2 linked regions of the Homo sapiens genome follow. The protein of the gene in region 2 interacts with the protein of the main gene of each other region in a pairwise test. Each region holds a gene or a part of one and is shown on either strand. Other genes may lie near its edges. The genes, in order: TOM1L1 and MAP3K3.

Region 1 (3,822 bases), 8.7 Mb from region 2:
TTCTTCTGTTCCCCAAACATCCCATTCTCCTTTTGGGAAGGGACCTTCTGACTAAGTTTGGAGCCACAATTTCTCTAAATCAGGACAGAATAGAGGTGTTCTGAGCCCATGGCACTGCCATGCTGGCCCTAGTTCCTGGGGAAGTTCCAGACTTGGGGCCTCATATGACTCCTTGGCTAATGCGGTACTAGATAATTGTATAGCATTAGACTGCCTCTTAGCAGAACAGGGAGGAGGAGAGTGTGCAGTTATTAATTCCTCTTGCTGTACCTGAATAAATACCTCAGGGGAAATAGGAAGTTAACATTAGGAAGGTCCATGCCCAAGCCTCTTGGTTCCACACTTTTAATCAGCAGCCATATTTTTTTTTTTTTTTTTTTTTTGAGACAGTCTCGCTCTGTTGCCCAGGTTGGAATGCAGTGGGGCACGATCTGGGCTCACTGCAACCTCTACCTCCTGGGTTCTAGCGATTTTTCTGCCTCACCTTCCTGAGTAGCTGGGACTACAGGTGCGCACCACCACACCTGCCTAATTTTTGTATTTTTAGTAGAGACGGGGTTTCACCATGTTGCCCAGGCTGATCTTGAATTCAGGGTGATCTGCGCGCCTTGGCCTCGCAAAGTGCTGGGATTACAGGGGTGAGCCACCACATCAGGCCTAATAGCCATACTTCTAATTCTGTTTGAGAAGTTCTCAAATTAGCAATACCAAGTGTTACTTGGTTTCTTCCCCTAATGAGGCCACTAATTTTATTGCTCTTACTACTGTTGTTTGGTCCCTGCATCTTTAACCTCTTCGTAAAATTTGTATCTTCCAGATTAGAAAAATTTCAACTGTAGGTGCCTTTGCAACCTATCCTGGGAGACCCTAAAACATATTTAGTTTTAGTGCCTAGAGATTTTCACTCCTCTAACATCTCTGGATACAGTGTCCCTGGTCAACATGAAGAAGTTACAGAAGAACGCTTTCTGATCCTGGCCCCTAAAGAATTTACTTGTGCTAAGTAATAAAATTCCTATTGATCAAAACCTGTGTCCTTGTGGAGAGTCAGATATCTGTTACTATCCAGGTGAATGAACCCTGGGTTTTTTGGGTGGTAACAGGACCTGAGGGGCTGCAGAGCCTACCTGTGTAAAGGAGATAGCTACTACTCAACCCCAGCCCATAGCTAGCACGTAAAAATTCAGGCTTCGTGTTGACAGAGTATCTAAATGATCTAGAAGTCCAGAATTTTTATTTTCAAATATCCGAGTTTTCAGCTGTTGGCAACTGTGGTCTTATGATACATACTGGTTTTTGTCTAAGGTTCCTGGCTCACAACTCCCATAGCCCTTGTTACAGTCTTTTGTTATAATGTTGGGTGTGTCAGGCCTTAGGAGCCAGCCTCTGGAAGCAGAATCTCTCGACCTTCTCTAGTCCTCCTTTCACCTGCCCCAAGGCACCACTCTAATCGCCCACCTTTGTCACTGTGGGTCATAAGAGCCTCCCTAGAGAGGGTCCTGCCCTATACCCTGGGGGAAGGAATGCTGACATCAAGAAGCTTCCATTAAAAACCCTAGAGGACTGGGTTGGGGTTGGGTCAGGTCAGTTTCTGGATAGCTGAACACGTGGAGGTACCTGGAGGGTGGGACTCCAGGGAGGGCACGGAAACTCCATGGCCTTTTCCGCATGCCTCGCCCTGTGCATCTCTTCATCTGCATCCTTTGCAATGTCCTTTATAATAAACCAGTAAATATAAGTATTTCCCTGAGTTCTGTGAGCTGCTCCAGCAAACTAATCAAACCCAAAGAAGCAGTCATGGGAACCCCAACTTGAAGCCAGTCAGTCCTAAGTTTAGAGGCCCAGGCTTGTGACTGGTGTCTGGGAAGGTAGGTGTCGGGGTGGTGGGGACTGAGCTCTCAACCTGTGGGGTCTGACACTATCTCCAGGTAGATGGTGTTGGAATTGAATCAGAGGACACCCAGCTGGTGTCCATTGTAGAATTCATTGCTTGCCTGCTGATGGGGAGAAATCCTCACATATTTGGGGGCCACAGAAGTCTCTGCATTCATTGTTATATTAGAGTGAGAGCTGAGGAAAAACATGGTTGAGAGTTTCCCAAACCAGCAATTAATTTTTTAAATGCACATTTTAAATTCTGCACAGGTCAAAAACAAACAACTGCAAGCAAGATAGAGCCTGTAGGCTGTCAGTTTCTGAACAATGATTTCCAATAAACGTGCTTTAATAATTTTTAACAATTTGGGGGTAACCTTCAGTCACTCAAAGTATATTAAAGTTCTTATGACCTTACCATTCCATTAATATTTATATATCTTGACCAATATGAAATCATAAAAGAATGTTGCTTTAAGGATTTTAAGTAAAAAGTAATTGTACTAATGCTTTAGAAGACTAAAAACAAGTTCTAATATAAGATTTTTTTGGATCAGTTCATAAAGAGCAGCTAAAATATTCCATCAATGTGGCATAAACTTATGTCACCAATCAGTGACTAGTACCCTTCTCAAGCTAAAGAGAACATGACTTTCTGCCAAGGGATCTATGAGGAGTCCATTAAGCAGGTTAGTTCCAGTTATTTCTTAACATGCAACCCCAGCATTTTTATTTTTTAGTCACAAGGCCGGAACGATAAGACCATTAAGAGTAACAGCTGCCATAAAACCTCATAAGGCATTTTTAATAAGGCCATCAATTTCTGCCAAGACCTAAACAAAGTTAAATGTATAACCAAGCCCTGTTAGCTCTGCTATCAAAGGGAACCAAGACAAAAAATAAATTAATCATTTTGTAAATGACTTACTCTGTAGTGACAGCAGGAGCTAAGGGATCAAACTCCATTACCTCGTAGTAATTAGGTGGCTGGAGATCACTTTTTGTCATCGCTTTGGGCAAAAAAAGAGACCAGTAAACATATTGTGCTTTTTGAGGAGTACACGCAATTGATATTCTTTTTATAATTTAGACTTCAAATATTAGATCCTAATAAACACAACCAAAACAGACTGGTGTCCCAATGCTACTCCCAAGTTCAACAAATCTGTATGTATCAAAAAGGTTTCCAAACCTCAACTAAAGATTCATTTACCTTAGCATTCAAAACACAATACTCAGTTTAACACAAGCATTTTTACAGTCTCTTATAAGTCAGTCATAATGGTATCTGCCCTGAATTTGTTTCATTAGCTTAAAAATACAAAAGAGCATCTCTAATTTCTCCTATTTTCAGTTACCAATGAATCTCTGGCAGACTCATATATTCTCATAAGTTTCCTTATTTGATGCGAATAATAAGGTCCCATGTACCTGGATGATTGCTGGGCAAAGGTGGCAGACTCTGGTTTGATGGTGCTGCTGCAATGGTTTGTAGACTAACTGGCTGTAGAAACACTGAATTTGAATGTTCCAGAAACTGAAGAAAGCATAACACATGTTCATATAAACGTTCTACATTAAGCTTTTCTTTTATTACTGAGACTCCTACACTTGCAAGTACATTGTTCCAAGAACTTTGAACTGGACAAGAATAAGTTGTTTTTAATTATTACTTTAGTTTTTTTAGGTAATAATCACTTACGAGATTTACTACTTTTCTGCTGGGCATGGTGGCTCATGCCTGTTATCTCAGCAATTTGGGAGGATAGGTGGGAGGATTACTTGAGCCCAGGAGTTCAAGATCAGCCTAGGCAACAGCAAGACCCCAACTCTACAAAAAAAAAAAAAAAATAGCTGGGCATGGTGGCTCACACCTGTAGTCCCAGCTACCCCAGAGACCAAGGCAGGAGGATCACGAGCCTAGGGGTTTGAAGCTGCAGTGAGTTA
Region 2 (3,822 bases):
TCTGCCAGCCCCATTCCACCCTTGAATAAACAACCTTTCCAGCTAGCCAAAATGCTTAGCTTCTTTCAACTGGGACTCTGTAATTTGAATCTGTAATCCAATTAGACATTTCTTAACCAAATTTGGCAACTCTTCACCATTTAAATTAGGTTTTGATCTTTCATTCCTCTCTCTTCCTAAGCATGGACTTTCTGGCAGAAGAACTGGTAATGAAGAAAACTGTTTCATTCTATCTCAGGCCTAGGCTAACAAAAACTACAATAATAATAATAAATGTGTAACTCTGTGAATTATAAAATCCGATGTTAAATGATTATTAATATCACCAGGCTCCTTTCATTATACTAGGCTATAAATACCTCTCCCCAACATCTTCCCCGCACTACCTCTTACCCTATCTTTCCTAGAAATGCATTTGCTGAGACTTTGTCTTTTTCTGCTTTCAGAATTTTGCTGAAGAATATCCCTCTTGGTCAGAAGCAAAACATCTGCTACACTTCCCAGGACAGGCCATTCTATAACCTTGACTTCATTAAGAGGAAAAGCTATCTTAGCATTTTATTTCCCCTTTTGCCCATATTAACATAAAACTTTGAGCTTCAATTTCTAAACAGCTGTTCTAGTTCCACATCTTCACATTCTTCCTAAAACAGAAATCTTAGGTAGGATTCCCATTATTAGCTTATCACAATGTACAGAAACTCATGACGTGTGTAAGGAATGAACATACCAATGAATATCTACACATCTCCAAGCATATACATAATTTCTTGCCCAATAAATCAACAGTCCCTTACATAGTGCATAAAGTCATGCTGTCCAATACAATAGCCACTAGCCACATGTGGCTGTCTAAATTAATTAAAATGATATAAAATTTAAAATTTAGTTCCTTAGTTGCTCAACAGCCACATGTAGCTAGTGGCTACAAAACCACATTGGACAGCAGAGATATAAAACATTTCTGTCATCACAGAAGGTTTATTGGACAGCACTGATAGAGGCTGTTTATGAATAATACTGTTGTGAGAAATGGTGACTAGAAGCACTGAACACAGGTCACGGGTAACCAATGCTTTTTACAAATCCACTAAAACAACTTGTCTGGGAAGTGAATTCTGCTGTTGCAGCATGAGTAGCAGATTTAAAAGTACATTTTGGCTTTAACAGGTAATCTGGATCCTTACCAAAAATTTCTTTTTCTCACTGGCCCCTGCACATGAGCTTGTTGTTACTGTGGGGCTGTTCAGAAGGGCTGAGCTGCTGCTGTTGTGTTTTTTCTTTAAAAACAAAAAAACTGAGGTTAATAATTTGTATCCTTCGTGCAACATAAGTTTGACAACATTGAAGTAAATCATGGATCCAAAGATCTAGTACCTCTTGTTAAGATTACTTCCTAACAGTCAATCCTTTTTAGGCTTCTGCCTTCATAACCACTGACTTCACTCTACCAGCGCAGCAGCAGGCACAGCAAAAGATCAAGACTTCCCTCATCATGGCTTTTAGGCTCTAAGCAGAAGGAGTCCTAAAAAGGAATCCTCCTTCAAGGAACCATCAGTGACCATTCCGCCCCTCCTTTTCCCAGCCTCGTCCTTTTGGGCCTTCCAATTCAAGAAAGCTTCCCCTTTTCACCCACTAACTGATATTCATGCTAATAGTCCAGTCTGGAGAAAGATCAGCTAACTGGAGCAATGTTAGCAAGCACACACTACATAGGAAGACAGGAAGGAAAGTGAGGTCATTAGGCTCAAGCAAGGGGGAGGGGACTCACTTCTGGTAAAATGCTCCTTCGAAAAGTGGCTTTGAATACAAATGAGTTATAGCAAGGGAGAACTCACACAGTCAGACTGAATAACATATGAAAATAGTGTAAGAATGGGCCCTTATCTGTTTATACCTCCAGTACTATAAGGTAACAACAACAAAAGCAGCTTTTTAAACTAATCCTTCTGTTTTAACATGAAACAAAAGGACTCCTCTTCCCTTGGGGTCCCTAGGATTCCTAAAGGCAGGAAATACTCTGGAAGGCTCTATCTAGCAGACCACAGACAGGAAAAGTTTTAGGGCCTTATACTATCTCTAGGAACCAATTCTGAAGAATTGGTAAACAAGGTGCAAATGAGAAGAAAGGAGGTTAGCTGATAACAAACAGAACCAAAAGGGAGAATGTCATACACAAATTTTCATCAAACATGCCCAATATAGCTAGCTGACACAGCACTGGATACCCACTAGGTAGGAAAGCTCCCCATCATTCACTCCTCTCTGCAGAACAAAGTACCCAGGAAACAGGTAAGTGGCACTACAGGTGAGAAGAAGATTGTCAATGACACACAAGTTTAAATGTTAAGGAAAATAGGCAATGTTTTCCTAAAGAAGCATACAACTCTCAATAAAACAGGCACTATCAATAAGGTTAATAAGGTAAAATAACTGTAAACAGTAATAACAAAATCACTCATTATTGCCTTCAGAATATACTAGGTGACATTTTAATTAATAAATTTACCTTCTTAATTATATTTTACATAAGCTAATACCAAATTAATTAGTTTTTCCTGACTATATACTGTAAGGTAGCTAAAAACCTTCTGACTTAGGGATCATGAATCTGAATTAAATATTTGCCAAATATCAGTAAAGGGGAAAAACGAATATGAATACTGTCCCCATAACAGATGAAATGCTTACACAAGGCTTTAAGACTCCAAATCATAGATCCATAACTGCATGGCATATATAACTTTTTTTTTTTTTTTGAGACAGAGTTTCACTCTGTCTTGCCCAGGCTGGAGTGCAGTGGTGCTATCTCGGCTCACTGCAGCCTTTGCCTTCCAGGTTCAAGCGATTCTCCTGTCTCAGCTTCCTGAGTAGCTGGGACTACAGGCATGGACCACCACACCTGGCTAATTTTGTGTTTTTTAGTAGGGACAGGGTTTCACCATGTTGGCCAGGCTGGTCTCAAACTACTGACTTCAGGTGATCCGCCTGCCTCGGCCTCCCAATATCACTTACCATTTAACCATACCTGGTTGGTATGTATTACTTCCCATTTAACAGACTGTGAAAGGAAGGGGTCAAAAGCATTCAACCCTGGTAATGTAGTCTCCTTGGCTTTTCGTATATTTCCCATTTGAAAACCCCTCCCCAACAAATCTCACTTAGCTCTGCCAGGGTCACACACACCTGCCTATTTGAGTGACCTGTGTCTTTGTTCTTCATGGTCTCATATCCAGGCATCCGGTGACGTCGGTTCATCTGGAGGGCCACCAGATCGTTCATGATTGAGTTCAATGCCTCCTGTTCGTCTGCAATGAAAGAGAGCACATGGACTAAGACACTTAAATACAGACCAGCAAAGCTCTTTCACAAACTGTATAACTAATACTCAGGGAGTTCTGCCCAGGTAAAATGACAGACCCTGTAACTATAATCAGATGCAGCCCAAAAGGTCAGACTATGGCAATTTGAATTTTAATGGATTCTTTTTTTTCTTCGAGACAAGGTCTTGCTCTGTCACTCAGGCTGGAGTGCAGTGGCGTGATCATAGCTCACTGCAGCCTCCAACTCTGGGGCTCAAGTGACCTTCCCACATCAGCCTCCTGAGTAGCTGGGAACACAGGCATGCACCACCATGCCTGGATGATTTTTTTATTTTTTGTAGAGACGGGGTCTCCCCATGTTGCCCAGGCTGGTCTCCAACTCCTGGACTCCAGTGATCCTCCTGCCTCGGCCTCCCAAAGTGCTAAGATTACATACAGGTGTGGGCCACCATGCCTGGCCTTTAATGGTTTCTTAATAGCCCTCCAATCAGATTTCCTG

The links.
Region 1: the proteins of MAP3K3 (region 2) and TOM1L1 interact in a two-hybrid assay, tested with the Homo sapiens proteins (one large-scale study listed by BioGRID and IntAct).

Annotation. Positions count from the first base shown.
Region 1 is NC_000017.11:54,949,108-54,952,929, reverse strand, and holds part of TOM1L1 (TOM1-like protein 1), read right to left. Parts: intron 3,413-3,822; coding exon 3,307-3,412; intron 2,886-3,306; coding exon 2,804-2,885; intron 1,029-2,803; exon of another isoform or gene 1-1,028. UniProt on the Homo sapiens protein: Probable adapter protein involved in signaling pathways. Interacts with the SH2 and SH3 domains of various signaling proteins when it is phosphorylated. May promote FYN activation, possibly by disrupting intramolecular SH3-dependent interactions.
Region 2 is NC_000017.11:63,632,167-63,635,988, reverse strand, and holds part of MAP3K3 (mitogen-activated protein kinase kinase kinase 3), read right to left. Parts: intron 3,309-3,822; coding exon 3,187-3,308; intron 1,281-3,186; coding exon of another isoform or gene 1,188-1,280; intron 1-1,187. UniProt on the Homo sapiens protein: Component of a protein kinase signal transduction cascade. Mediates activation of the NF-kappa-B, AP1 and DDIT3 transcriptional regulators.